Homo sapiens: one gene and its partners. The protein of the gene in region 3 binds, or shares a complex with, the protein of the main gene of each other region. Each region holds a gene or a part of one and is shown on either strand. Other genes may lie near its edges. The genes, in order: ERCC3, GTF2A1 and GTF2E2.

Region 1 (10,600 bases), on a different chromosome or scaffold from region 3:
AATTTTTGTATTTTTAGTAGAGAAAGGGTTTCGCCATGTTAGCCAGGCTGGTCTTGAAGTCCAGACTTTAAGTGATCTGCCTGCTTGGGCCTCCCAAAGTACTGGGATTATAGACGTGAGCCACTGCATTCGGCCACCATGATCCAGTTTTAGATTTCCTTTGTACTCATTTGCAGTCAATCTTTGTTTCTCTATCTAGCTTCAGATGACTACTGAACTGCTGTCACTATAGATTTGCTTTTTATGGAAAATTTATATAAACACAATCATACAATATATATTATGTCTGGCTTCTTTCACTTCCCATAATGATTCATCTGTGCCTTAGCATTTATCAGTAGTTTGTTCCTTTTATTGCTGTATAGTTTTTTGGGCGAATCTTTTTTGATAAAAACAGATTAAGGGATTAAGATTAACAAATTAGGAGTGGGCATGGTGGCTGACACCTGTAGTCTCCTAGCACTTTGGGAGGCCAGGGCAGGAGGATTGCTTGAGCCCAGGAGCTTAAGATTAGCCTGGGTAACATAGTGAGACATGTCTCTACAAAAAAAAATTTTTTTAATTAGCCAAGTGTGGTGGTGTGCACCTGTGGTCTCAGCTGCTGAGGAGGCTGAGGTGGGAGGATCACTTGAACCTGGGAGGTTGAGGCTGCAGTGAACCATGATTGTGCAACTGTACTCCAGCATGGGTGACAGAGTGTGAGACTCTGTCTCAAAAAAAAAAAATAAAGATGAACAGATTAGGGTAAATTAAGGAGTCTAATAGAGGTTACTATGAACAAAATGAAATCTGAGGCATTTTCACAGGTAGTGTTCAAAATGTCAAAATGGCCCCAGCATCTGGTTCTTTCTGTGCATGAGAGCTCTTCAGCCCTGATGGGTTTCTGGAGATACCTAGAGATGTTCACAGCTGGCCAGGGAGGGATTGGAGGTCTTTCTGATGGAAGCCCAGGGTGTGGGCCCTGCTGTGGGAAAGTACTTGGCATAGTGAGACAGCACAAGGTGGCCATGCGGCCAGAGGAGAGCATAGGAACAGTAGTCAAGGCTGAGGAAGATTAGCGGTATTGGGGCAGGTCTTGTAGGACCTTGTAGGCCACGACAAGAACTTTGGCTTGTACTCTTAGTGTGAAGCCATCTGAGGGATTTGAGCAGAGCATGACATGAGTTGACTTTACACTGTAAAAATACTGCCCTGGCTGCTGTGCTGGAAATAGACTGAAGGAAGCAAGACAGAAGCGGTGAGGTGAGTTTGTGGAATCCCAGTAAGGATGAAGGCGTGATCCGACTCTGGATATGTTGTGAAGCTTTAATTGACAGGTCAGGTGTGGAATCAGAGAGAAATCAAGAATGACACTAAGGTTTTTGGCTTGAACAAAGGGAGGATACAGTGGGCATTAATTGAGATGGGGAACACTCTCAAAGGAGCTGGTCTGGAAGGTGACTATCAGGAGTTGGGCTTTAGATGTGTGAATTTGAGTTTCCTGTTAGGCATTCAGGCCATGGCAAAAAGGTTAAGAAATAGGCCAAAGAAATTGATAGACATTTCACCAAAAAAGGATATACATATGTCAAAAAAGCACTTGAAAAAGGGTTCAACCTCATTAGTCATCAGGGAACTGCAGATTTAAACCCACCACAGGATGCTCCCATATGCCAGTTAGAAGGGCCAAAATAAAAAATACTGATGTGCGGGTGCTGATGAGGTCACAGCAACTGAACTGTCACACATTCCTGGAGGGATGGATTGCAAAGTGTATGGTCACTGTGGAAAACAGTTTGTCCATTTATTATGAAATTACCACATGACCCATCAGTCCCATTCCTGTGTATCCTGGATACATGAAAAGAGGTTTACACAAAATCCTGTACACGAATGTTTATGGCAGCTCTGTTCATAATATCCAAAACCCAGGTGCTCATCAGTGGGTGTCTGGATAAACAAGCTGTGGTACATCCATACACTGGAACACTACTCAGTAGTGAAAAAGAACAAACTTGCTGCATGTTGCAACCTGGATGAATCTCAAAAGCATGGTGCTGAGTGAAAGAAGTCAGCCTCAAAAGCTTCCATAGTATGTGATTTCATTTATACAACGACAGTATAGTGCTGGCCAGCAGATCAGTGGTTGCCAGAAGTGGGGGGTCAGAGATGGATGACTCTAAAGGAGAGCACAGGGGAATTTTGGGGGATGCTGTCTTTATCTGTACCCTGATTGTGGTGCTGGTTACAAAAATGTAAATATGTTAAAATGCATAGAAGTGCCCCCCCCACCCCCCGCCCCAAGTCAGTTTTACTGTGAGAATTTAAAAACTCAAAAGAAAAAAGGTGGAAGGGTGGGTATTGGGTCTGCTAGGATTGAAAATTGATGGTACAGAGAATCACTACCCACAAAGGAGTCTGGAATTGTTCTGTAGCAGTTTGGTTGGAAGCTGTGTTCAGGGCTTGAGGCATTCTGTCTGACTATATGTTTGGTACACGTTCATGTTTTTCTTTAACCCAAGCCCCAGGTCCCAGGTTCCAGGGGACAACAGCACAGATTTGGGATTGGTTATCTGATGAACAAGTACAAAAAGGTGCATCTCACACTCACATATGTCTGTGAGTTTGTCTGTCTCTCGTCTAGTTCACTGGATGAGTTAGTCTTTGGTTGAGTTGCGGAGTGAAACCAACAAACTCTAAGGGATTTTTGAGTACAGGCCCCATAAGCCCAGTGGCCTGGCCATGCTCATTGTCCCAGAGAGCAAATGTTAAATAAGGGAATGCTAGGAAGTCACAGTAAGTCTCCTGACTGTCTTAACGTCTGCTGTGTTGGGTTAGGTGGAGTGATCAATCTTTGAGATTTATCTCAAAGGATAAAGATTGCTGTGCTGTTTTACAGATTTTTCAAAAGGAGCTCTGTTATGCCTTTTTATTAATGATTCATATTATGGTACTTGTGTATATTAAGTGCTTCCTGTGTGCTAGGTACTGTGCCAGTTTCATTATTTCTACAGGTATTTATTGAGAACCTACTAAGTTTAGGCACTGTACTTGGCACTGGAGACAAAGTGGAAGGGACAGCCAAGTAACCACACAAATAAATGCCAAATGACAACCATGACATAATGTTGAGTGATACAAGCCACACACAAAAGTGCATACTATGATTTCATTCATGCAAAGTTCAGAAAGGAGGCAGACCCCTCTCAGAAGTCAGAGGAGTGTTTCCCTCAAGGAAGAGTGCTAGTTATTGACAGAAGGGGTCAGGGGAGAGACCTCTGGGTGCCTGGTTCTCTATATCCTGATCTAGGTGGTTCCACAGCTGCATGTCTGTAAAAATATATTGAGTAGTATGCTGTGAGTTATTCACCTGTGACAGCTGTCAGGGCTGTAGGAGAGTGTAATAGAGGGGTGTGATGGGGTCACGGGTGTCCAGGCAGAGTCCTACCTGCCTTATCCTTGTCTTGGGTCAGTATGTCCCCCAGTGTTGCCTCTCTGGGGCCCACACTGGGTTGGTGTAGCCATTGCCTTGACTACCATTTCCCTCTAACATGGGGAGCTTGGTCTGAGGTTCTTGGCTACTGTATTTTGGAGCCAGCACAGTCTTTCCTTAGACATAACCCTGAGCTGATTTTGTTTTCTGTGTTGTGTGTGTGTGTGTGTGTTTGTGTGTGTGTGTTTGCATGTGGTGTTGTGTGCAAACCATGTAGATGTAAAAACTAAACATTTACTTAGAGTTAGGCAACCCTATGTTATTTCACTGTGAACGTCTTTGTGTTTTGGTGCATTCAGGCCTCTTTTTCCTTAGATTTTTGTGTCTATTTATTTCTGAAATATCATTAGCCCTACTTTCAATTATATTGTAAGATAAGCATGACTCAAACATTTTAACCTTGCTTCAGAGTATTAGAATTTTTAAAAGGTGAGCCCGTGGAAATCCATAAATTAGGTTTTTTAAAAATGAATAACTCATACCCTTTATGTGTTTATTTTATTTGATAAACCAGAGAGAATTATAATGTTCAAAAGAAAGGAAGAAAAAGAGGTTGCTGGTTGACCAAAGTGATTGAATTGGTAAAGTTTGGAGAGGGGAGTTTCCTAAGGCGGGCCGGAGGGCTTGGGCGAACAGTTCCTGGAGTTTCATCACTCCCGTGGGCTTGGCTTTCTTCTCGGTTTCTGGGAAAATGATGGGAAGCTGAGAAGAGCTGGCTTCTTTCATTTCTTCCTCTCCCTAGATTGTCAACTTTCTTTTCAGTAACCTGGGTACAAGTGTTAGGGGAAAATTCTTTGCGTAATTTAGAGCTTAATGGTATTAATAGTAAGTATTGCAGGTTGTATTTCAAATTGCCATCTGTACTTCTACTGATAACTGTTGTGAGGGGAATGCTGGGATTCATTAACTTGGAGATTCCTTAAGCTCATTTCACCCTCTTGTTCTCCTTTTCATTTTCTTTTGGACAGGTCTAAAAGTGATGGTGAAGCATTTGCCTAGTCATTCTTGTCTAGAGCCAGCTTCTGTGGTCCTGAAACCCAAGGGTTAGTTCAGGTGGTGTCATAAGCCAGTGTTAAGTTGCACAGCTATGAGCATTTGAAAAAGTGACAGTGTAGGCTGGGTGCAGTGGGTCACGTCTGTAATCCCAGCACTTTGGGAGGCGAAGGCAGGGGGATTGCTTGAGGCCAGGAGTTCAAGACCAGCCTGGGCAATATAATGAGACCCCATCTCTACAAAAAATATTTTAAAATAAATAAATAAAAAATAAGAAAGAAAAGTGACAGTGTGAATGCTCCCATTGTTTCCTCAGCCAAGATGTTCCGAAGGGTGCTCACCATCGTGCAGGCCCACTGTAAGCTGGGTTTGACTGCGACCCTCGTCCGCGAAGATGACAAAATTGTGGATTTAAATTTTCTGATTGGGCCTAAGCTCTACGAAGCCAACTGGATGGAGCTGCAGAATAATGGCTACATCGCCAAAGTCCAGTGTGCTGAGGTAGCTGGGCCTGGGCTGGGGGCGTCTGGGAAAGGGCCTCCTCCTATGGGCAGGGGAGTGATCAGATCGATTCCTCATGGGCAGACACAGGTCAGGACTTAGGCTCACCTGCTACCACTTCATACAGGATCCTCAGTCACCCTGTGGTTGGGTGGTACTAGACCCACTTGCTGCATATCTTCTGTCTTGTCACATATCTCACATACCCCTGAATTTGTGATGATTCTTTTTCCTAGCCATGGGGTTTACCAGTCATGGATTTCTGTGGGTGAGGATTAGCATTCAGGGCACAGGGATGAATGAAGGCCCCTGATACCACAGTGCTGCCTGGGAGCCTGGCAGCAAAGGGCTTTGCTCTGATAGCCCCAAGCGCCTAACTGATATGCTCCCAGCCCTGCTGGGAAGTGTGTGAAGAGGTGGCGGTACTCAGTAGCAGTGCTGACTCGTGTGTGGAAGTGTGGCTTAAATGGAAGAATTGCTGACACTACCAATTGAGAATCTGGTTTCGCACACTTGCAGCTGGTGTGAAAATAACTCCCTGGATGTGATTGCATTTAAAAATCTTTTAAGTGGTTAACATGTGAAAACGTCCAGTTCAATAGGAGGTATTAGGTTGGGTTTAGTTTTGTGCATGCATTTATTTTCAGTTGTACTGATTTCTAATTCACATAGCATTTTTTTTTTTTTAAAACAGGGTCTCACTCTGTCACCCAGGCTGGAGTGCAGTGGCGTGATCTTGGCTCACTGCAACCTCCGCCTCCTGGGCAAGTGATTCTCCTGCCTTAGCCTCCTGCGTAGCTGGAATTACAGACATGCACTACCACACCCAGCTAATTTTTGTATTTTTAGTAGAGACTGGGTTTCACTGTGTTGGCCAGGCTGGTCTTGAACTCCTGGCCTCAAGTGATCTGCCTGCCTCAGCCTCCCAAACTGCTGGCATTACAGGCATGAGCCACTGCACCTGACTGGTTTTGTTTTAAAGCTAATTCTGCTAGAGAAAGGTCTTCAAAAGTTTTAAATTGTGTGGTGTTTAAACTTGTAAAATGACCCCTGGTTCTTACTGTATTACAGGTCTGGTGCCCTATGTCTCCTGAATTTTACCGGGAATATGTGGCAATCAAAACCAAGAAACGAATCTTGCTGTACACCATGAACCCCAACAAATTTAGAGCTTGCCAGTTTCTGATCAAGTTTCATGAAAGGAGGAATGACAAGATTATTGTCTTTGCTGACAATGTGTTTGCCCTAAAGGAATATGCCATTCGACTGAACAAGTAAGAATTGAAAACTTGGAGCTTCCTCCAGGCCAGTTTCTCTTCCCCATTGAGAGTGCAGAAGGTGGCTGTTGTTTTGTTTTTTTGTTTTTCTCTCAGGAACTTCTTGGGCTCCAAAGATCTTGTTCTGTGGCCCTGGTCTCAGAAACCAGGGAAGACCTGAAGTAGGTGGTTGGAGTCAGAGGTTAGAGCATAGAGAAAAGGGGGGCTAGTCACCTTGAGCCCAAAGAACAGGGAGCAGAGACTTGGACTGAGCTGGGTGGGGCCCCATGGAAGATCTGGGCTCCAAAGGTGGGTGGGAGTTGGCATTTGGAGCTTTGGGCTGTGTGAGCTCTGTGGGTGGAGAGGAGGCCAGACTGGATGGCCTAGGGGCTGGGAAGGCAAGATGGGCTGGGCTGGCATCCCAAGTACGGACTGGCATCTGGAAGGAGCTTAGAAATGCCCACGCAGTATCCTCATCAACCCATGGCTCCACCCAAATATTTGTGCTTAAAACCTGGCTTTTGTAAAGCTCTGCCAAGTAAGGAGGAAGAGGTCTGCGCTTGCTCCTACAGTGACACAGGACTTCAGGTGCTGTAAGTGTTGCAGAAGGCCAGGCCCTCTATGGAGACAGGTCAAGCTATGTGCTATGGGTACTATACATAGGTTTTACTTAATCCTCACTTCAGCCATATAAAATGTTGTTCCCATTTTATAGAAGGGAAGACAAACTCATAGAAAGATTAAATTTCTTAAGTTTCTAAAATTATACCTTTATTTAATTTAGAAAGACTTTTTAATCCAAGTCAACATTTAGATTATTGTGAAAAACAGCAATTCCCTGCTTCTATTTTCCCACCCACAATTCTATTCCTTGAAGACAGCCGCTTTTGACTCTTTTTTGTTGTTTACCTTCATATTTCTTTCTTTCTTCCTTTTTTCTTTTTTTTTTTTTGGAGTTAGGGTGTCACTGTGTCACCCAGTCTGTAGTGCAGTGGTGTAATCACGGCTCACGGCAGCCTTGACCCCCTGGGCTCAATCAATCCTTCCACCTCAGCCTCCCGAGTAGCTGGGTCTACAGGCACGCACCACCACACCCAGCTAATTTTTGTTTTTTGTAGAGATGGGGTTTTGCTATGTTGCCCAGGCTGGTCTCAAACTCCTGAGCTCAAGCAGTTCCTCCTGCCTTGGCCTCCCAAAGTGCTGGGATTAGAGTCATGAGCCACCACACCTGGCCAGCCTTCATCTTTCTAAGCAATAGCTTATGTAGTAATTTCTTGATGATCAGTTATAGAAATTGCCTATTAACTTCCTACTGTAGGAGTTGAGGGTTTAGCTTTCTTACATACACCACTCTCCCCACTCCTGTTTTCTCTCCTACCATTCTCCCAATATGGGAATAGCACAAGTTGGGGGTTACTTTAATATTCAGTTACATTATTTTGACTGTGTAAGTATGTTCAGGCAGAGCTGTAGAGTACTATTACATTTTCCTTTTTTTTTTGAGACGGAGTCTTGCTCTGTTGCCAGGCTGGAGTGCAGTGGCGCTATCTCAGCTCACTGCAACCTCTGCCTTGTGGGTTCAAGTGATTCTCCTGCCTCAGCCTCCTGAGTAGCTGGGACTACAGGCACCCGCCACCACAGCCTGGATAATTTTTGTATTTTTGGTAGAGATAGGGTTTCACCATATTGGCCAGGATGGTCTCGATCTCTTGACCTCGTGATCTGCCTGCCTCGGCCTTCCAAAGTGCTGGGATTACAGGTGTGAGCCACCATGCCCGGCCTTACATTTTCTTTTTTGTAAATGTTTTTTTGCCTTGGAGTTAATAATTGCCTTGTCATTGTTTTTGCTTGGTTTTCTGTGCATTGAATAATTATTCCCCTCCAAAGTCTTCACATAACCATAAACTCAGTAGGGTCAGGTAATTTCTCAGTTCTGTTTTTCTGTTTCCCCAGTGGGATCCCCACCAGCACTCCATTCGCTTACTCTGTTCTGGCCTGCTTGCTGTCTAGGACTAGAGACACCACCAGCTGTTACCATGGGGTTTCCCTTGGACACTACCCCATGACTTCCCTGGGCCTCTTTGTTGTGTTTCCCACCCTGAAATCTCCACCCTCTTGGTTACTCATTTTGATGGAGCACATGTTCCAGTAGGTTCCTGAGAGAAGGGATGTAGGAGGAGAAGCTTTGGAGACTTCACATGTTTACAGATGTCTTTACTCGACTTTATACTTGATCAGTAGTTTGGCCAGGTCCTAGAACTAACATTGGAGCTTCCAGTGCAGCAGTTTGGCAGTCTGATGCCCTTTGCTTCCTCTCAGTGTGTTGTCTGCTGTGGTGGCTGTGCGTTTTCCTTCCCTTGAAAACTGGTAGGATCTTCTCTCTTTTTGGAAATTTGAAAGTGATATTCTTAATGTTTTTCTTTCATCGTGATGGGCACTCAGTATATCCTTTCCATCTGGAAACTCGTGTCCTTCAGTTCTGAGAATTTCTGTTTTTTTGTTGTTAATCACTTTCTCTATGTAGTCCCTTCTTGGAATTTTGATTCATCAGATGTTAGATCCTCTGAACAGCTTCTCCAGTTTGCTTATCTTTTTTCTACTTTTTTATCTCTTTGTCTTCTAACCCTTGTATTGAGACTTGTTAATTTCTGAGAGTTCTTTCCTGGTAACTGTTCTTGTTTTGTTTGTGAATAGAGTGTCTTCTCGGAGGCTTTGAAAACTTTTGAAGCTTCCGTCTGTTTCCTGCCATGTCTCTTTTCTTCATTTTTTTGTCTTAATTGTTTTTACCTGTCTTTTGAGTCTTTCTGAGTTTTGGTAATCCTTGACTGTATTTTATTGGTTTAAAGTCACTGAAAACCTGGCAGGCCTTTCTGTGTGGCTTAGTGGGTTTGCCAGCTTGTGGACCTCACCAGAGTGGCTGGGCAGGGCCTGGCTATTTCTTCAGGAGGTTGCCAAATGCCAGTATCTCTAGGACTTTTCTCTTGGGCTGGACGGTTTCTTCAGTGAGGAATTTTTCAGTCCCCTGGGCACCACCGTGTGTTAGGGGAAGAGGAGGGCTTGTGGAATCTTTGCATTCAGTCTTGCCTTTTCCCTCATCTCTGCCGGGCATCCCTGGAGAATAAGCCTCCAGTGCCCCACCAGTGGAGGTGGCCTGCCTGCTGCCGGCCGGACCCAACTGCTCCTCACACTCACACACTGCCAGTCCTCCTGTGCACCTCCCCACCTTCTCAGGCAACTGGTGACTAGTTCCTGAGCCCTCCTGCGTGCTGCAGAGGACACAGAGGCGGCGGGTTTTGTATCGGTCTTCCCTCCTGCCGGCTCCAGCTTCTGCTTTCTCTAGTCTGTTAGCTCAGGTACTGTGCCTGCATCTGTCTGCTTTTCAGCTTCTGAAATGTTACCCACTTCTCTCATCTGCTGTTATTTCTTCTCCTGTTTTCTTGGTGGGTTTGTGTTCTGTCACATTAGTGCCAATTTGAGCAGGGCAATGAGACAGTTCCTATATTTACTTTGCCTTATTTAAGAACTATTCTCTCCCCATCCTTCCTCCCACAGCAATGCTCCTCCAGTCTTCTGGAGCCTCACTCCAGGGGCCTCCCCCACCTACATTTGCAGCACTCCTGAGGCTTGTGCCTTAGCCGCAGCCTCCCGAGCATCTGCTTGGGCAGGGACGTTAATTTGCCTGGCACTGTCAATTCCAAGCCAGTCTGTCACAGTGAAGGGCAGCAGATTGTGGCTGTCTCCTGTGTACTAGAATGATCATTACAATGTGTACTTTTTACCTTTTTTTTGTGTCTCTGGCCTTTAAATGTATGAAGTAGTGTTTTTTCTTCTTGGTTTTCTCGCTTCTAAAATGATCCTGCGGGCCAGGCGCAGTGGCTCATGCCTATAATCCCAGCACTTTGGGGGGCCAAGGCAGAAAGATCACTTGAGCCCAGGAGTTCAAGTCCAGCTTGGGCAATATAGTGAGACCCCATCCTTTAAAAAAAAAGTGATCCTGTGGCTCTCGGGCATTGCTCCATTCTTTGCTCGTGTGTGGTGGGGATTCTCCAAGCTTTTGGCTCCTCCCAGCCTTCATAAGAAAGGCATTGGTATCACCAAAGCACTTTGCAAGAGAGGCTTAGGGTTATATGGCAGTGTGGGGCTGTGGGCAGAGCATCGTTTTTGGGATCAGACAGACTGGATGTGGGAAAGTTGTTTACCTCTGAACTCCTTTTGTACTTCGGTCACATGGAGCTACTGCCACCCAATGTGTACTGGGTCCTGGTGTCCCTTGATGGTGGGGGGTGGATTCTTGTGCCTGGCAGCTTGTAAGTATTTAGTAAATGTGACATTCTCCACTTGGAGGGTGCTTTTCCTTCTATTTCATCTGTGTGGGGGA
Region 2 (10,600 bases), on a different chromosome or scaffold from region 3:
AGTTTGAATATGGGTTGTCATGGTACACATAGTAGGTATTCAAGTATTTGCGGAATACATGAATGACACAAAATATAATGGGCTTAAATGTAACAAACTCCTTTATGTTCGAAGATAATCAGCCAACCACAATTGTGATGCTGGTATTACAAGTATTGCTATTTTGGTAATTCACTGAAGATTTTTGAATAGGATATTGAATGTCTAATGGGAAGAAGGGGCTAATTGGGAAGGCAAAAGACTCCTACAAGGGAAAGGTGATATCTTAAGACACACTTTGCATGAATAATGCTTTTCTTTCTTGGTTGCAAACAACAGAAACAGACTTATTTTAAGCAGAAAAGGGATTGGAAGGGTACAGTAGTTTGCAGCCAAAGTCTGCTTAGGAGGTTGCCAATAGCACTCTTGCCCCAGTCAATATCACACCACCAGACCTGAACATATATAGGACCTCTGACTGATCCTGCAACTTTGTTTCATGCTCTTAAGACTCAAAGTCCTGAGTGTAAGCATCAGTCTGACCACCTCAGATTTTGGTCCCTGTTTCTGGATCCAGTGACAGGTGACTTCTTACTTGCTATTCTACTTCCATAAAGAGGTATATATTACCCTCCATTCTTCTTGGCATGAAGCAAAATAGGAAGGGTATTCTGACACTGAGAAGCCAAAACAACAAATGTCCCTTGTACATCCCTGCTGAAAGTGAACAGCTCTAAAGAGCTTTACTCTCAGCCGGGCGCAGTGGCTCAAGCCTGTAATCCTAGCACTTTGGGAGGCCAACGCGGGTGGATCATGAGGTCAGGAGATCGAGACCATCCTAACATGATGAAACCCCGTCTCTACTAAAAATACAAAAACAAAATTAGGAAGGCGTGGTGGCGGGAACCTGTAGTCCCAGTTAACTTGGGAGGCTGAGCCGGAAGAATGGTGTGAACCCGGGAGGCGGAGCTTGCAGTGAGCTGAGATGGTGCCGCTGCACTCCAGCCTGGGCAACAGAGCGAGACTCTTGTCTCTAAAAACAAAAAAAGCTTTACTCTCTTCATCTCTTGCAACTAACCTGGGTGAACTTTAGTTTTCCTGGCCCTATTTGCCCCACTCAGCAATGCCACCCTAACCTATGCATCATTAGCATGGAGGTCCTGTCAACACAGAGAAGTCAATGTACTCTTTTTCAAAGTGGAGGAGACATTGTGAGAATCAGAGTGATGTATCCGTATCTTCAATGTTTGACAACTCTGTTTTGCTCCTTAAATGAACTGGACAGACTCCATTCATATTTGGAAAAGTCCATTTTTAAAATGATAGTTCTATCATAGTTTTAGCTTTGAGAAAATTCAACTTATTTAGACATATAATTTAGGATTTTTTTGGCGGGGGGAGAGAGGGAGCTTAAAGGCCCTCCCACTGTTTGATTATCCCTCTCCCATACCCAGCACTCAATTTTCTTCCCTCTGACACTTTCTGCTGTAGCCAGATGCATTGTTTCACCAACTTACCCTCCCAGGATTGTTTGGTTATAATGAACTCTTTCACTGGTTCTCAATTTGTTTTTGCTATTTTTGACCATTAATTTTTTCCGGTTCAAGAATAATTTTAAACTATGCAAATAAGTATGAAATTAAGCATATAATTGTGACATCTGAGTGCTGACTGTGTACCAGGCACCAGCCTAAGAGCTTTACATGCATCACACCTCATTTCATCCTCAAAATCTTGTCATTTTACAGCTGGAGAAACAAAAGCCAAAAGCTTAAGCTTAATCAAAGTAGGGGCTTGAATTAAACTGCAAAATACAAGATTTGCTGGCAATAAATAAGATATCTTTATTATGATTATGTTAATAGTTAAAATTTGCATGTTTTCTAGATAGTCTGTTAACAGGATAAAAAAATACAAAAAGGCGAGCTTCTTAATGATTCAGCTGAATTAACTATAAAATTAAAATACCTGCTAATTATTATCTTCTAAAATAACACAAAATATATTCAATACGCAATACAAACCTCAGTAATCCAATTCTCCTAATATGCAATTATTTATAACCTCTGAACTAAGAGGAAGTGGTTTGACTAAACAGAGAAATAACAATGTTTTTATCCTAAGTAATCTATACTTTGGAGTAGAAATACTTATTTAATACAATATGTTAATTATTAATATTTCACAAGGAGTAATCTTTATTTTGAAAAACAATGTTAATTATACCAATTTTTAGTTATAATTTGTTAGTGTGAATTCGCCCAACCTAAATTCCTGTGTGCCTGGAAAATACAACTTTTTAAAAGCTAGTATTAATCATTTGTAACACAGTTTACTAATTCAAATTGACATCTCAATCTACTTATCTTTAAGGTACAGAATTTAGCATCTTTTTGTTGTTGTTAAATGGAATTCTCATTAACAATGTAAAGCATTTTCCTTTCTAAATTGTATTTTATTCAATTATCTATAACAATGCCATATACTAGTAAGCAAAGCAAGCAACATTTTTTTTTAAATAACATCTTTAATTAAAGTTTTTGCAAAGTAGAATATTAAACTTAAAATAGGTCTTAGTACATCAAAATACTAAGTTCTCTAATTGTATTCCAAGATGGTCTTTAAAACATAATATCCCATATATCACAGAAGAGCAACCTTGATCTGCAATGAATTTTACAAACATAATAAATATATTTACGCCATTACACATAACAGTATGTACAACAGCAGTTGACAATAGTAGCTCAGAACAGCAAAAAGGATTAGCCCCGCCCCCCAAGTCATAGTCCTGATGTAGACTGGACTGATTAAGGAACCTTGACTGAAAGAGTAGTTACTAACTCAATGTGTAGTAACTTCCCTTAAAAGAGAAAAGTTTTTTTGTTCCTCAAAATAAACAAAAATGTTAGTTTGGTGTGTTCTTCATTAAACCATAGACAATGACAAAAGACAAGAGTAAGGCAGGCTTAAAAAGGGAACAATATAAACTTCGTAATAATTTTCATAGCATAATAGAGGACTAAAATGCAAAGCTATTTAACAAACTCATGAGGAAACAAGTAAAGCAACTATTTTTTAACTAAAGAATTCAAAATCTGCTATAGCTGATTCTGACAGGTAGGTGAGAGAAAGACATGAAATAAAATGAAAATGTACAAAGATGGATCAACAAACTATTACATTGCACAAAAGCTTAAAAAAAAGAAAGTTCAAGATGAAATAATCGGAAAAACAGGAATTTTCTCAAGTAGAAGAAAATGCTAAGTCATAAAGAGAACTCCCAAGAGGAAATTATGTCTGTTTTCCTATACAAGGGGTATTTACCCTCTGATAAGAATGGTGACATTATTGCTATGAGAATCAAAAATAGTATACTCTTAGAGGGAGACAACTCTTTTCATTCCTCCATAAAAGCCAGGAAAAAAAAAATCTGTGACTTTCATTATAGCAAAAGAAAATATTCATATAAAAGCTATATGTTATTTCCTAAAACCAGAATCTATTATGCTCATTAAGCACACATTTTAATTACTACACACTGCTCAAGTCTTGATGTAATCTTAGAACAAGAAAGTGGCTTTGCTTTTAAAAGAGGCAACAGTGTAAATGTGACATTATGATGGCATTTTAATTAACAGAAAGAAATGTGAACATTTAAAAAATAGAAAAGCCCAACATAAAGATCCCCCTCACATAACAGACATTTTACTCTAGAAATTAATTGCACATTAAAGAGTTGTTTTAGCCATATGTGGCACTCCACAGAAATTAAACATGCTCTCAGGCATTCAAATGGTCTGATTACCCAAATGGCCACCAAGCAAGAGTTTGTATACTGAAAGGCACACATTTCCATGTTTTATCTTGTAATTTTGTGTAAATTTTCCTTAGCACTGTTGATTAATGTTAATTTAAGTAAAAGGTGCCATCGCCATCTGTGCAAATCTAAACAAATCCTCTCCAGAAACCATTACTTATTTTCATAATACCAAGTCCGAACTATTTTCTGCCTTTAGATAAACATGCTACTTTCATTTTCAAATTCTGAAAGTGGAAATCCCTTGCCTTTTCAAAGGAATGACATTTTAATGGAACCTAATACGAAATGATTTGTTAAATACAATGTTAAAAGCATGATTAAGAATTCAAGTACAATAAAAGATAAGCAAGTGACATTCTTACAGCAAAAGCTACTATAATAAAACTAAAACATGCTATTTGATTAAAAAGGACACGATGCAAATAATATATAAGAGCACAATTTGGTATGCAATGTAGCTTGGACCAGCTTTCAGAATTTTCACAGGTAAAAGAAAAGCATTTGCCAAGTATACCATAATTCATATGCAATACGCAGGTGCAAATACAAATGGTTATTTCCTGCTTCAAAAATAACAAAATAACCACTCTGAAAGCAGTGGTTGTTAATATTTGAAAAATAAAGTTATAAAAACAGGCCAGTATACAACACTACTATGAATATGAATGTTTGTCTACATAGAGGGCCCAAGACAAGCTGAATATCATACAGTAATCCAAGTTTCAGTAGCATAAAAACTACTAGATAGCCAAAGGGTTTCACTTAAGCAACACTGCAGCACTGCTGAATTTTTATAGGTAGTTCAGGTCACTGACTTCCTTACTGAGTAAATACAAACCTACTAGCAACTATATTGAAGAACAGTTGAACAACAGCACTTCTGTGATGTTACTCCCTCCCATTTCCTCTTCTCTCAGTCTTAATAATATATATTTTAAAACCTCTGTGTGCTTTGAGAGTCACAGAATAAACAAACTTCCCCTCAAAAAACTAAATTAATATAGTCAAAATAAAAGCTGTATTACCAGTTATGGCATCTAAATAAAATCTAACTACTAGCATGCTAGACACCACCATTAACACCAAAGTTTAGAACATAAGTTAAAGAGATCAAGGTGGTAAGCTGGGTGGGAAGTAGAAAAAAAAAATTTTTGCCTTTTTTTAAAGTTAAAAGATTTGTGTTAAAAAAGAAACACTATATAATAGCTCACAGTTTTCTTCTCTGTAATGTACTTTAAAAAGTGTTCATGTGTTACTTCTGAAAACACAAAGGCAAAAGGAAGACAAAAACTGAAGATTAAAAAAATATATCAATATACAAGTAACCTAAACACATGTAAATTTTGTCAAGATAAACCATGGAAAGTTGAATTCGTTGTAAGAACACAATGGTGAAGACAAGCATTCCTGCAGTTCTCCCAGGCAGTGAATTCACACTGAACACAGCAGTGCCATATTGTTCTTCAGAGCCCCTTACAGAATACAGACCTATGCATTCTTAATATACATATTACATTTCTATTATTTTTAATATACAAGTCAAATTTCTATGCTTTCTTCCCAATGTGCAAACTGGAGCCAACGTCTTTATTTTCAATGGCCTGGAAGGGCCACCAAATGAAAGAGAGGTAACTTAGTGGCCCACCCACCTCTTCCCCCCAAATTTTCCCCTCAAATTACAAAGTTGATTTTAAAAACTTGTTGAATTAGAATAGATTTTTAAAATTCTTTACTAGTAAACACAAGAAACTTTTATAATTACTAAACTGTTTAATAAAAATCCAGGTCCTCACCACCTGCCCTATGCTAATCAATGCACAGACTGTTAACTGAATGTTTAGCTTAAAAACTAAACACATTTATAAGCACACACTTCAGCCCAACAGGAAAAGTCTACATATATTCATGTGTATACAATTTCAGCTAGATGGTATGCTTGCAAAATAAAACTATATTCCTGAGGAGCTAGTTTGGGGTTTCTTTTTAAGGTGTGGCACTAAAAGAAACAAATTAAGTTTTTCTGTAAGGAAATTAAAGTTGTGGTTTCAATTCCACTGAACTCAGACAAGACCCAAGTCTTTAATTACATTTAATAAGTATGAAAACCTAATTAAAATAAATATTCATTCCTGGGTCAAATTTTATCTCCAAACTATGATCACTGATAACTTTAAATCTTAAATAGATGTTTCATAAAGCTGGAAAGGAAGAGGTATATATCACTGAGGGAGAATAGCAAGTAAAAATATTTAAGACCTATTATGAGAGTTTTAAATTGTTTTCTTATACAAGTGAATTAAAATTCAACACAATTCTTACCCTTTTGTAAAAAGCTCACACGCAACTTTTACCAAATATAACCACATACAATAAGCAGTTTCAGTTCAATCTATCAAAAGGGAAGTTTCTTCAGTTCATTCCAACAAGTATCTTCTGATTGAACCCAAGTTGGAGGAAGGAATATAGACAAAGCTTTACATGCTAATTACCGGTGGCAGGTACCTGTATTTAAAATCAACAATTATGGTTTTCCTACACAAAACCCCAACCCTCCCACCCAAAAACCCTAGGTGCTACAGTTCCATGGCTTGCCAGTAAGTAGTGTCTATGTTGTCAAGGTCTATCTTTGTTCCAGTAGCTTTGCTTCTACTGCACTTTTCTGACATGCAGAAACGAAGTTTTGGTTGGCATATGCCCCAAGTTTCAAACTGTCCGCTTTACATTTTTTTTAAGTTTCTTTTATTTATAAAAGAAAAAAAGCAACTCTTCACCATTCTGCATCTCCAATGGCTTTGGAAAATATATAATCTCTTCCATTAAGATTCATAATGCCATCCTTGAGATGAAATTTCCATTTGTTTTTACTTCTGTGTATCTAAACAAAAACAACATTTTAAAAATTGAGAGATACAATCAGAAAACAGAGAAAACAAGTAACAAAAAACCCATACACACACACACGTACACACACACCCCCCCACAAAACAGTATTTACAGTATTGTATTTGCAAATTGGTTTGTTTTTGTAGAAGAAGGGTCTCCTATGTTGTGCAGGCTGGGCTCGAGCTCCTGGCCTCACGTGATCCTTCTATCTCAGCCTCCCAAAGTGTTGGGATTACAAGCGTGAGTCACAGCACCTGGCCTAAAAATTGGTTTCTTAATAAAGTTTAATTTCACCAAAAAGAACAACAACAACAAAAAAACCACACACAAAACTCACTAGGTGGGTCTAAAAACAAATTTATCTGTAATTAGTACTATTTTATAGCTTTTAGTACTTGTGTTCATTAAAGTAGTTAAAAAATATTTCTTTACAAAATGTCTTATCTCTCTACCAGGTTTGCATATATATTTTCAAGGTCTACCTCAAAAAGACTATCCTCCACAAAGCTTTCCCAAATCTTACCAGCTAAAACTATTCTTTTCCACTGTTAAATTCCCAATGGTATTTTCATTGACATTTCTTACATTATTTGTAAGTAATACAATTATGGACTCATTTCTTCTACCAAAATAAAACTCCTTATAGAGTTCTCAAGACCTAACTACCATGGAACCTTATACATAGCAGTATTTTAAAAATACATCTAAAGGATGCTAATCATCCAGTCACTTACACCAGATTTCAAAAACTATGTACATCCACAGTTAAACAAAAAGAGCTGAAGGGCAGGCTCTGGGCACTCCCATCTTTGCCTTCACTTATAGTCCGTAGTTGTTTGTAATTCCATGGATTTGGTGGGGGAGAGGAGTTGTAAAACTTAATGAACTGAAGTGACCTTTCTTCCTTTTCCCAGTAAGTCACACTAATTATTTAATGTTCAAGTTCCACATCTTCTGCAAAGAAGGCCCCCTGGTTCTCCCTATTCTATGATCTAAAGGTACCTAAAAAAAAAAAAAAATCAACTAGTTCAGGCTTTCATTTTCAGAAGAAGAAATGACAGATTGGATAGGGTTCAATGGTTTGACCAAGTGTATACTGCTACTAAGTGACAATCATGATTTTCAAGTCTTGGTCCAGTACGCTTTTACTAAATCAGTCTGTTTCATATAATAATGCAGAAATGCTCAACAGGTATAGATATTTTCTTTTTCTTTTTTTTCTTTGAGACAGAGTCTCACTCTGTTATCCAGGCTGGAGTGCAATGGCACGATCTTGGCTCACTGCAACCTCCCCCTCCCAGGTTCAAGTGATTCTCCTGCCTCAGCCTCCTGAGTAGCTGGGATTACAGGCACTCACCATCACGCCCAGCTAATTTTTGTATTTTTGTAGAGATGGGTTTCACCAGGCTGGCCAGGCTGGTCTTGAACTCTTGACCTCAGGTGATCCCCCACCTCGGCCTCCCAAAGTGCTGGGATTACAGGCGTGAGCCACTGCACCCGGCCAGGTACAGATATTTTCTGAGATCTCATTCCTAAAATTCCATGGCCTAACCTCCCAGTGCAAACATTCTTCATGACATATTCCTGGCAAATGGTTGTGCAGTGTCTGCTTAAATACGATTAGAAACAGTGAGCAAAGAATTTCAAATTAAGTTATTCCTTTTTGGAACAGCTCTCTTGTAAAATCTTTCAGAGTTTACCCTTACGGAAATCTGCTTCTCCAACTTCCATTTATTGATCCTAGCTCTGCTTTTTGAGACTTAAAAAAAAAAAATCACTCAATCAAACAACCTTCATCTTATTTGGAAACTACTCTCATGTTCTTCTTCTGGATTCAAACTTTGCTTACTTATTAAAGCAAAACAAAGCACAATAAAGGTAAAACAGCAGGTAGGGTAAAGACTGTTGGATTAAGAACTAATTATATCTCTGGTCTAAATACACTACATAAATGCTAAATGTAGCATCTTAAGATTGATGACTTGAATGTCTAACGGACATACCAGACTTGGCATGTCCAACCAGCTCCACATGCAGCTTTTCCTCATCTGAACTGATGGTATCACCATCCTTCTTTCAGAATCCTCATCAAAAAATCTCAAGAGTCATTCTTGATTCCTTTTTCTTTTCTACCACAAATCTCAGAGTCAGGAAATGCTGTTAACATTCTTCCTTCAAAACAAATCCAAAATCCAACTACTTCTCACCAACTTTAATACCATCACCATAGGCCGAGTCATCATTATCTCCCATGTGAATTATTATAATATCCCCCTAAATAGTCTCGTTTCAGCAACCTCTGCTTCCTCCTCATATTATGCTCTCTACAAAGAAAGCAAAGTAATCCTTTCAAAATTTAAATCAGTTCATACCATTTGTCTCACTGAAACCTTCCAATAACTTTCTGATTCACTTAAGAGTAAGAGCCATGTCCTTACAAAATCCTTACTATCTGCCTTCCCTTACCTCTCTACCTACTACTGTACTCTCCTCTTCCCTCACTCCAGTCTAGCCACACAGGCCTCCTTGCTGTTCCTCACATACAACAGACTCTGCCACCAGATGACAGGGCTAACTCTTTCCAAGTCTTTGCTAAAATGTCATTTTCTCCAAAGACCTACTATGACTATCCTATTTAAAACTGAAACCAAACCTGTCCTCTTTCCCTGCTCTTTATTTTTCCATACCGACTATCAGCTTCTAACATATAAATATTTTATTATGTTTTAAATAAGTAAATAAATCCTAATTTATTATGTTTTAGCATCTATCTCCCCTGATTGGAGTAAGCTTCCCAATGGCAGGGACTGTTCTGTTTTGATCATTAGTGTATCTCAAGCTCCAAGAATAGTGCCAAGGGACATCATAAACAGTATCTGTTGCACATGAAAAGAGCTGTCTCCCCTTATCTTTGAATTCCTATAAAGTATTATTTATTCTACAAACGTGTATACAAATGTATTTCCAGCATGAACCAAGTGACTGCAACCAGAAAGACCGTGGGCTTAGCTAGACAAAAACAAGAAAGTGATGAGTAGCCAGGAAATAAGAGATTCTATAGACAAGTAAAGAAACTGCCTGCATTCTGTCATAGGACAGGACAATTTGCAAAAAATAAATGTACCAAAGTTTCATGGGCCAACTAATCCACACAGTCAACACTGAAGTCATGTTGGGTAATAAATGGTAAATATTTTTATATTAATAGAAGTACAAAGTCACAACTTAAAAAGCAATCTATTTACCGGCCCTAAGCCCTTCATGAAGGAATATTCTTAAAGCCAGGAGAAAGCCCTCTTAAATTTCCTAATTAAAAATGTGTTAAAGCAAGTTTACCTACATCTGATGCTATTTTCGCTAAATGCTGTATCAGCCCTTATCCACCCACACGTAAGCAAGAACTCTACCATATTATTAGCATTTAACTAAGATTCTGATTTGATTGGCAATACAAGCTTTATTAGTCGTTCTATGATCTCTTCTAAAATTGACTCATTGTTGACATTCTAAAGTTAAGGCTTCAAAACTACATTCCTGAAATTCAAGTTGGCTCAAACAATATCCAACCTCATTTTGCGCAGTCAAAGAAAACTGCTGTTCTTTACTATTGGCTAAAGACATCAAGCCACCACCCTCCTCCAATCTTCAGAGCAATTCATTTGATTCTCAAAATTAGACCTCTGCAAATTTTAAAATTATTTATCATTCAGCACACCATTTAGAGCTATCTCCCACTTACTAATTTAAAACAGTAAAGTAATGTCTCTGGGAGCAAAACAAACCAATTTTAACATTTAAAATATTATGAGTACAGTTTGTGCCAAAGGAGAATACAACCATTGTCTTAAAGTAGGAAGACACTTAAAAGTATATTCTTCAGTCAGGCTAAAACAAAGGTCCTCGCTTGCCTGATAA
Region 3 (10,600 bases):
ACAATTATTGATATTATAAATATACACATGAGTAAGGTTTGAAAACAAATATGGAGAATTAGAATAGCTGGTATATTAAGAGGGCTGTGGGGACAAAAAAAAGCACTAGGTATTATAAAAGACTTTTTTTAAATCTCTATTACTGATGGAATTTTTTGTGTGCAATAAATAACTGTGTGGTGAAGAGAGGAAATCTGTTCTTTTCAATTTAAAGAATATCGGCTGGGCGCGGTGGCTCACGCCTGCAATCCTAGCAGTTTGCAAGGCCGAGGCAGGTGGATCACCTGAGGTCAGGAGTTCGAGACCAGCCTGGTTGACATGGTGAAACCCCATCTCTACTAAAAATACAAAAAAATTAGCCAGACATGGGAATGGGGCCCCTGTAATCCCAGCTACTTGGGAGGCTGAGGCAGAATCACTTGAACCTGGGAGGCAGAGGTTGCAGTGAGCTGAGATCATGCCATCGCACTCCAGCCTGAACAACAAGAGTGAAACTCCGTCTCAAACAAACAAAAGAATCTTAACTGCCGGTCTGAAATAACTCTTCCACAAAGTATTTTTTATATTTATTCTCACATTAGAAACAAACACAAATAATATAACCAACTTTAAAAGGATTTGTGAAGCTTGGATATATAAAATACTTTGGAAACCAGGAACTGAGCACTGTTAAAACCATATACATTTTCACAAACGTTGGATTCTTGGCAATAGATGGTAAGTATACAAGTCCTTTAATAATCAGATTTTTTAATAGTGTACATTACCAACTTTCTCCCCCACCCTATCCTGTAATTATTTAGTCATCCAACAAATATTTACTGAGTGCTTACTACATGTCAGCAATTAGGCCAGATACTGAGGGCAGAGTGGCAAACAAGGAACCACGTCACTACAATGGAGCACATTGGAAGCTCTGTCAAAAAGAGTAGTGATATGGGAACTCAAAGGTTATACAGTGAATTCACACTGAAGAATGAGAATAATATGACTTTTAAGCTGAAACTTAAAAGAACAGGACAGAACCAAAAGAGGGTAGGAGGTAAGAAAGAATATTCCAGGAAGAAGAAATAATACGAATAAAAGCCAAGAGGCAAGAGAGAATAAAGCATGTTGGAGGAGCTACAAGTCAGTATCACTAGGACAGAGTACAAGGAGAACAGTATGATACCACACCTAAGAGATAATTAGAGGCCAGATGAGGCAGGCACGCAGGCTGCAGTAAAACATGGACTTTATCTGAAAAACAGTAACAATCAGCTTGAGCTGAAAGCAACATGATCTAATGAGAAAAATCACAGCTGTATGAAGAATGAACACTAAAGCAGCTAAACCAGGAGACCTGGTCAACAGCTAACCTAGCAATCCAATGACCGTGGCCTGAACTAGAGTGGCATGGTAGCCTTTAGTTGTTACACCCAATATTTCCAGCTCTCTTCATTAAGGAAAGCATTCACTTCAGAGCCCCCTATGGCTGGGAACATAACTTTGGCCAATGAGTGACTTGTGACTAACTCTGGCCAATGAGCTGTGAGAGGATGTGACATGTGTCACCTTCAGGCCACAGCACTTAACTGCTAGTGCAAGCTCTTCCAGAGTTAGTTTTCCTGCTAGCACAGAACTCACAAACATTTGAGCTTCCAGCTGCTCTGCCAGCCTGGGTCCTTGAGTGACTATAACTAGCTAAGACTTCTACCAATCCATGATAAACATGTAGTATGAAGGAGAAACAAGCTTCTGTTGTTTTAAGAAACTGAGATTTTTGGGATTGTTACCACAACACAGTTTATCCTACCCTGACTGTTAGGGAAAACCCTGGCCAACCAAAGAGAAGTAAAACCCTACAAGGGCTCTTCCTGCTGTCGAATGGGACCTGTTTGTGGGGAAGATGAAATTCGCTACCCAATACCTGTAGCCTAAACTACAAAATGCAAAGACATTCTTGAGCAGGTCAAAGGCTCAAGTGGCTTAAGCCTGAGAGTGGCTATGTTAATGTTTAAAACAGTTTTTACATTTTTGTTTATGATGAGTTAATTCTATGTACATTTCATTGGAACGACATATAAACCTAATATATATTATAAGAATGACAGGCCTACTTTGATTTTTAAAAAAGCTTTGCTTCCAAATCAGTTATAAAACAGCTTGTAGGATGTGTAAAAAATTAACATCAATAAAAATTATTATTGCTACAATTTGAAGTAGCTAAATAATTTCAGCTGTGAATTAAGTTCCACTGACATTGTTTAAAAGATAATAATGTAAGAGTAAACTAAACCCAAAGCAAGCAGAAGGAAGGAAATAATAAATACTGATGTGGAAATAAAAACAAACAAACAAACAAACAAAAACCAAAACAGAAAAGCCAATGAAACCAAAGGTTGGTTCTTTGAAAAAAATCAACAAAATTGATGAACCTTTAGCTAGACTCATCAAGAAAAAAGGGAGAAAAGACAAATTCCTAAAATCAGAAATGAAAGAGGACACTGGGTGAGGTGGCTCAGGCCTGTAATCCCAGCACTTTGGGAAGCTGAGGCAGGCAGATCACCTGAGGTCAGGAGCTCAAGACTAGCCTGACCAACATGGCAAAACCCTGTCTCTACTAAAAATACAAAAATTAGCTGAGCGTGGTGGCACACACCTGTAATCCCGGCTACTCTGGGGGGCCTGAGAGACAGAGCAAGACTCCGTCTCAAAAAAAATGAGAGGGGATATCACTACTGACTTTATAGATATCAAAAGGATTATAAGGGAGTACTTTGAAAAACCTCAGACAATGTAAATGATGAATGAATAAACTTCTAAAAAGCCACAAAGTACCAAAAGTAACTCAAAAAGAAATAGAAAATCTGAGTAAACTGAAAAGAAAAAATTCTTACAAAGAGCTTTCCACAAAGGAAAGCTGAAGCCCAAATGGCTTCACCAGTGAATTCTATCAAACATTTTAAAAAATAACAAAGTTTCACAAACTCTTTCAGAAAATAGGTGAAAAGGGAGCACTTCACAAATCGTTTAAGGAGGCCAGAATTACCCTGAGAGGCACCAGAGAAAAACGAAACTACATACACATCAAGTCCCTCAGGAATAGAGATGCAAAAATCCTGACCGAAATACCAGCAAATTGAGTACCACAACAAATAAAAATGATTATACACCATAACCAAGTAGGATTTATTTCAGGAATAAATGCAAGGTTGTTTGAACATCTAAATATCAATTAATGTTAATATATCATATTAATAGACTAAAGAGTGAGAACATGCTCATCTCATTAGATACATAAAAAGCATCAGACAACATCCAGTACCCATTTATGACTAAAAACTCTCAGTCAGATGCAGTAGCTTATGCCTATAATCCCAGCACTTTGGGAGGCTAAGGGGGATGGATCCCTTGAAGCGGGGAGTTTGAGACCCACCTGGGCAACAAAGTAAAACCCCATCTCTACCAAAAAAAAAAAAAAAAAGTTTTAATTAGCCAAATGTGGTGGGCATGTGCTTGTAGTCTCAGCTACCCGGGAGACTGAGGCTTGCTTGAGCTGGGGAGTTTCGAGGCTGCAGTGAGCCATGATCACGCCAGCAGTGAGCCATGATCATGCCCGTACTCCAGCCTGGGCAACAGAGTAAGACGCTGTCTCGAAAGAAAACAAACAAAAGGCTGGGTGCGGTGGCTCACGCCTGTAATCCCAGCACTTTGGGAGGCCAAGGCGGGTGGATCACAAGGTCAGGAGATCGAGACCATCCTGGCTAACAGTGTAACCCCATCTCTACTAAAAAGACAAAAAAATTAGCCAGCCATGGCGATGGGTGCCTGTAGTCCCAGCTACTAGGGAGGCTGAGGCAGGAGAACAGCATGAACCCGGGAAGTGGAGCTTGCACTGAGCTGAGATTGCGCCACTGCACTCCAGCCTGGGCAACAGAGCAAGACTCCGTCTCAAAAAAAAAAAAACCACCTCTCAACAAACTAGAAATAGAAAGGAACTTCTTCAACTGGAAAGGGCATGTACAAAAACCTGCAGTAATATCATGCGTAAGAGTGAAAAACCGAATGCTTTGCCCCTAAGATCAGGAACAAGGCAAAGGTAGCTACTTTTACTATTCAATGTACAGCCAGTCCAGACAGGCAAGATAAATAAAAATTAAAAAGTTCACACCGGAAAGAAAGAAAGAAAACTGTTCTTATTCACAGATGACATAATCTTGACATAGAAAATCCTAGGGAAACCACACAAAAAACTACGAGAAATAAAAAACAAGTTCAGTCAGGTTACAGAATACAAGATCAATGTATTAAAAAAAACTCTTGTTTCTATATACTAGCAATGAACAATTTAAAAAAAAAAATCAAAGAAAACAATTTCATTCATAAGTGAGATTGAATCAGAATAAAATAACCGCTGGGTGTAATGACTCACACCTATAATCCCAACACTCTGGGAGGCTGAGGTAGGAAGATTGCTTGAGGCCAGGAGTTTGAGACCAGCCTGGGCAACAGAGCAAGATCCTGTCTCTACAAAAAATTTGTAAAAAGCCATCTATTCATTGACTGGAAGATCTAATATTGTTAAGATGGCAGTTCTTCCCCAAATTGATTTATAGATTCAATTCAATCCCTATGGAAATCCCAGCAGGCTTTTTTGCAAATGTTGATAGATTGACCCTAAAATTTATGCAGAAAAACTAAAACAATTCTTGAAATAAAAAAGAACTAAGTTGATGGACTTACATTTCTCAGTCTCAAACCTTAATTACAATGCTACAGCACTCAAGAGAAATGATACTGGCATAAAGATAAACACAGAAGTCAATGGAACCAAACTAAGACTCCAGAAATAAACTCTTTGATTTATGGTCTACTAATATTCAACAAGGGCGCAATATAATTCAACAGGGGAAAGATCATCATTTCAAAAAATGATGCTGGGACAACTTCATAAGAACACGCAAAAAGATAAATTTTGACTCTTATGCTAATCCATACACAAAAATCAACTCAAATATACTACAAACCTAAATGCAGGAGCTAAAACTACAAAACTCTTAGAGGAAAACACAGAAAAAAATTTTCATGACCTGTGTCAGGCAAAGATTTCTTAGATATGACACCAAGAATACAAATGATAAAAGAAAAAAACTGGTAAGGTGGACTTCATCAAAATTAAAAACTTTTGTACATACAAAGACACTATTAAGAAGATAAAATGACAAGCACTTGCTTGGAGAAAATATTTGCAAATGTATACCAGATCAAAGAATGGTAGCCAGAATATATGAAGAATTATTAAATCAATAGAGAGAGGAAATATACCTCAGTTTTTTTTATGGGCAAAAAAAAATTGAATAGACATTTCACCAAGGAATACACATGGTCAATAAGCACATGAAACAATGTTCAACATCATTACTCATTAAGGAAATGCGTATTAAAGCCACAATGATAGAACTTCACAACTATAGAAATAGCTATGATTAAAAAAAAAAAAACAGAATTTCAAGCGTTAGCAAGGATGAGAAAAAACTAGAACCCTGATACATTGCTGGAGGAAATATAAAATGGTACAGCTATTTTAGCAGTTTCTTAACAAGTTAAATATAAATTTGACATATGACCCAGAAATCTACTTCTAGGTCTCTATCCAAAAGAGATAAAAAGATATGTCTACACAAAGACTTGTACATGAATATTCATACCAACACTATTCAAAACAGCCAAAAAGTGAAAATAATCCAAATAACCGTTTATTGGTGAATGGATAAACAAACTGTGGTACATATATCCATACTATGGAATACGCTTTACCAATAAAAATGGAATGAAGTACTGATGCATACTACATGGATGGAACTCAAAAATATGCCAAGTGAAAAAAACAACACACAAAAGACCACTTACTGTACAATTTCATTTATAGGAAATATCCAGAAAAGGCAAATATACAGAGCCAGAAAGCAGATTATTGGTTTTCCGGGGCAGGGATGGGAAAAGTCACTGCAAATGGGCACATCAGATCTGCTGGGGGTGATGGAAATGTTCTAAAATTGGACTGTAATAACAGCTGCAAAATTCTGTAAATTTACCAAACATCTTTGAACTGTAAACTTAAAATGAATGAACTGTATGGTATGTAAATTAAACCTAAATAAAGTTTTTTTAAAGAGGTAATAACCTAAATTTTAACTACAGCACAAGACTATTAACATCCTAAGAGCTTAAATTCTCTTGTCCCATCCTTTATATTCAACAAAGTGCCTATCAACATGAGTGCTGAACTGAAAAATGAACTAGCCATAACTAAACGGTTTCCTCCTGAATAATCTGAATAAAAACCAAACAGTCCTAAACAATTTTACTAACCAGAATTTTGTTTAGAGCCTGACGATCCTCCATGTTCTACCTTTGTTTTCTTCTTCTTTGACGATGATGATGATGACTCAGAAGATGCTGAACGTTTTTCTACTACAGGAGTAGAAAGAGCTCGTTTTTTGAACAGCTCCCTTTCTCTCAACAGGCTTGGATCCATAATGCTACAAAGAAAAAATAAGTGTCTTTAATACAAATTCAAGTCACTCAAACCTGCACTCCAAATCCACAGATCTCAACAAGTTACTTCCCAAACAAAATTACCTTTTATTATTAGTTCTCTAGCACTTGCATTTATTCACTTATTCAAGTACTCAAGAAATATTTCATTAGCGCTTATTACACGCCAAGCACTGTACTAGCCATTATAGGAAAAAAAGAGGCCAGGCATAGTGGCTGAAGCACTTTGGGAAGCCGAGGTGGGCAGACTGCCTGAGCCCAGGAGTTGGAGACCAGCCTGGACAACATGGTAATACCTCCTGTCTACAAAAATACAAAAAATCAGGCAGGCATGGTGATGTGTGCTTACAGTCCCAGCTACTCGGGAGGCGGAAGTGGGAGGATCACTTCAGCCTGGAAGGTCAAGGCTGCAGTGAGCTGTGATAATGCCACTGCACTCTAGCCTGGGTGACAGACCAAGACCCTTGTTCAAAAAAAAAAAAAAAAAAGAAAGAAAGAAAAGAAACAGAATTATTCCCTAAAGTTCCAGAACTGTGCTGTCCAATATATTAGCCACTAGCCACATGTGCCTATTAAACATGTGAAATGTGGCTAGTTAAAATTGAGATGGACTTTCAAGTGTAAAAACCCACAAGATTTCAAAGATTTAGTATAAAGAAAAAAACTATTTAATTACTAACGAGATATTTTACATTAATTACATGTTGAAGTGATACTATTTTGAATATACTGGGTTAAATAAAATGTTAAAATTAATTTCACCAATTTTTCTTTTAAAATATGGCTATTAAAAAAAAATTAAGAGACAGTGTCTCACTGTGTTGCCCAGGCTGGAGTACAGTGGTGTGATCATAGCTCAATGTAGCCTTGAACTCCTGGGCTCAAGCAATCCTCCCACCTCAGCCTCCTGACTAGCTAGTACTACAGGTACACGCCACCACACACAGTTAATTTTTTTAAAAACTTTTTAGAGACAAGGTCTTGCTATGTTGCCCAGGCTGGTCTTGAACTCCTGGCCTCAAGCAATCCTCCTACCTCAGTCTCCCAAAGCACTAGGATTACAAACATGAGCCACTGCACCCAGCCTAGAATATTTTTAATTACACGTGTGGCTCACACTTCCCACTCCCATTATATTTCTATTGGACAACACTGCTGTAGAAACATGAGGACTACAGGGCAGAAATTAGAAGAAGGTGGATTTAGGCTCACTGCAAAAAAAGAGAACCATCAGAACTGCTTATACATAAAATGGCATATTTTTACAACTGGTGAACTCTCAATTATTAAGTGATGAAGAGGCTGAATTATTATACTATTTGTTAGAAATGTCTACAGAGAGCCGGGCACAGTGGCTCATGTCTGTAATCCCAGCACTTTGGGAGGCTGAGAGACCAGCCTGGGCAACATAGTGAAACCCTATCTCTACGAAATTAGCCAGTCATAGTGACACATACGTGTAGTCCGGGCTACTCAGAACGCTGAGACACGAGAACTGTTTGAGTCCAGCAGAGGTTGCAGTAAGCTGAGATCCCGCCACTGCCCTCCAGCCTGGGGGATACAGCAAAACTCTGTCTCAAAAAAAAAAAAAAAGTCTACAGAAAATTTCCAATTTGGAGGGAGGTGGTTTGAGGCAACTTCTATGTTGTGGTTGTTGTTTGTCTAGTTCTAAAATTACAACTCAAAGCAATTTCACTACAACCAGGGAAGCTACAGGTCAACCAACAAGAATTCTAAACACACCTCTCTTCTGAACTCTGCTAGAACCCTACAGAGGGTCTATGAAGACCTCAAGCTGACTATATAAATGAATTTGACACTGTTAAGACTAGTGTCAGCTGGGAGGAAAAAGACTCATACTTTGAAAGCTTTTAAGCACAGATAGCTCAATAAATATTTGTTAAATGAACAACACATGGAACATCATCTTTAAATTGCTCTGGTCCCATTATTACTGGTTTCACAAGCCTTTATTAAATATCTTGTTTGTGAGGCACTGTGCTCTAAGCTTTGAAAGGTTACGGAAGATAAATCCTTGTCTACATGCTGCTTAGATTTGAGAAAATGGAAGCATTGAGCTAAAAATTTTAAATATAAGCATTGATAAGAAATAATCAGACTGAATTTCAATTAAGGCGTGAACAATCACTGGACGGTGAATCAAAAACCTGCCTTCTCTCAGTTTCAATTTTTTTTTCTTTTTTTTTGAGACAGAGTCTCGCTCTGCCGCCCAGGCTGGCAGAGTGCAGTGGTGCAATCTCGGCTCAATGCAACCTCCGCCTCCTGGGCTCAAGCGATTCTCCTGGCTCAGCCTCCCGAGTAGCTGGGACTACAGGCGCGCAGCACCACGCCCCGCCAATGTCTGTATTTTTAGTAGAGACGGGGTTCATTCACCATGTTGGCCAAGCTGATCTTGAACTCCTGACCTCAAGTGATCCGCCCACCTCAGCCTCCCAAAGTGCTTAGATTACAGGCGTGAGTCACCGCACCCGGCCTCAGTTTCAATTCCTAAAGCCACCTGGCTAGGCAACCCACAAGGCCTCTACATTCAATTTCATAAGTGAAATGAGGACGCTATGAAAGCTGTCCACATCCAGCCCAATTGTAAGAATGAGAAAATGTGTATGTTATTTTTTAAACAGTAAAGTCATAAAAACGTGTTATTTCAGTATTACTATTTTGAGTTGGATCTGAAAGAAGGGAATGATTTACCGGGCTGAGGAAAGTAGGAGACAGCCTTGGGAGGAGGGAAAGCGTGGGGCCAAGAAGAAGAAAGGAGAATTGTCAAGTGAGAAGGTGGGAGCAAAAAGTAAATTTCTAGAACAGGAAACATTTGTGTCTTATTTCACGTTGCAAAGGCAGGACCTCAATCTGGACTTTAAAAAAATTACTCTAAAAGATTTAAATAGGCCGGGCGCAGCGGCTCACGCCTGTAATCCCAGCACTTTGGGAGGCCGAGGAGGGCGGATCACGAGGTCAGGAGTTCTAGACGAGTCTGGCCAACATGGTGAAACTCCGTCTCCATTAAAAATTTAAAAAATGTGCAGGGTGTCGTTGCGGGTGCCTGTAATCCCAACTACTTGGGAGGCTGAGGCAGGAGAATCGCTTGAACCAGGGACGTGGAGCTTGCAGTAAGCCAAGATCGCGCCACTGCACTCCAGCCCGGGCGACAGTGCGAGACTCCGTCTCAGAAAAAAAAAAAAAAAAAAGTAAATAAAGCCGTACAGTTTACAACAAACTAAATGCTTACAGTATTTGACCCTCGCAACTCTAGGAGCAAACAGGTATTAGTGTTATTCCTATTTTAATACGTGAAATCTGAAGTGAAGCTGTCTGGTTAAGGTCGCACAGATGGAAGAGCCAGGGCCAGGAACCAAACCTCCTGACTCCTAACTCAAGTGCTCCTTACACCAGACCTGGAACGCTGGTAAAGGCCTTTAAAACAAAGGCCACCTGTGAGGTTCGGGAACGTTCAAAGGCATCTAGAGCAGAAAGCTTCGCAATGTCTGTCTTTCACCATCACGTGCTCCGCCTAACTTTTCCTCCTTTTTCAAAGACTACCCAATATGTGTACTAAGTTTTAGATCTCTGGACCCCCCTATGGAGTAAACAGGCTACATCACCATGTCCATTTTACAATTAAACAAAACCACAACTCAAGGAGTTGGCTGGTTCCTCCGTGGGCAGACACGGAAAACCCAAAAATTAAACTGAAATCTGCCTCCAAGCCCACGATTCTTGCCACCATTCGACCTCTTTCAACCTTACTACTTCCCCTCTCTTTCACTTTTACCCAGCCTCGTTAGTGTCCCTGGCACCTCAGGACCCGGCTATGAAAAGCAGGCTGCTTCGCCCTTAAATGACGGAAGTGGGGAGGTGGGCGAAAAGGGGGCCGCAGCGTTGTTTAGACTGCAGAAATCAACTACTATCGTTAAAGTTTAGGGATCATCACAAACCAAATCTCCAAAAGGTAGCCTAGAAAGCAGTCCGCGTATGAGCATCATTTTAAATCACAGTCTTGAGCTGGCTGGACCCCGCGGCTGCTCAAACTCCACACACG

Evidence for each region.
Region 1: GTF2E2 (region 3) and ERCC3 share a complex: the UniProt entries of both Homo sapiens proteins name them as parts of the TBP-based Pol II pre-initiation complex.
Region 2: GTF2E2 (region 3) and GTF2A1 share a complex: the UniProt entries of both Homo sapiens proteins name them as parts of the TBP-based Pol II pre-initiation complex.

Annotation. Positions count from the first base shown.
Region 1 is NC_000002.12:127,274,813-127,285,412, reverse strand, and holds part of ERCC3 (general transcription and DNA repair factor IIH helicase/translocase subunit XPB), read left to right. Parts: intron 1-4,781; coding exon 4,782-4,966; intron 4,967-6,037; coding exon 6,038-6,240; intron 6,241-10,600. UniProt on the Homo sapiens protein: ATP-dependent 3'-5' DNA helicase/translocase. Binds dsDNA rather than ssDNA, unzipping it in a translocase rather than classical helicase activity. Component of the general transcription and DNA repair factor IIH (TFIIH) core complex.
Region 2 is NC_000014.9:81,173,654-81,184,253, forward strand, and holds the end of GTF2A1 (transcription initiation factor IIA subunit 1), read right to left. Parts: intron 6,678-10,600; coding exon 6,570-6,677; 3' UTR 1,799-6,569; downstream 1-1,798. UniProt on the Homo sapiens protein: TFIIA is a component of the transcription machinery of RNA polymerase II and plays an important role in transcriptional activation. TFIIA in a complex with TBP mediates transcriptional activity.
Region 3 is NC_000008.11:30,647,079-30,657,678, forward strand, and holds part of GTF2E2 (transcription initiation factor IIE subunit beta), read right to left. Parts: intron 10,541-10,600; exon of another isoform or gene 10,497-10,540; intron 8,107-10,496; exon of another isoform or gene 7,998-8,106; intron 6,904-7,997; exon of another isoform or gene 6,625-6,903; intron 6,525-6,624; 5' UTR 6,521-6,524; coding exon 6,355-6,520; intron 1-6,354. UniProt on the Homo sapiens protein: Recruits TFIIH to the initiation complex and stimulates the RNA polymerase II C-terminal domain kinase and DNA-dependent ATPase activities of TFIIH. Both TFIIH and TFIIE are required for promoter clearance by RNA polymerase.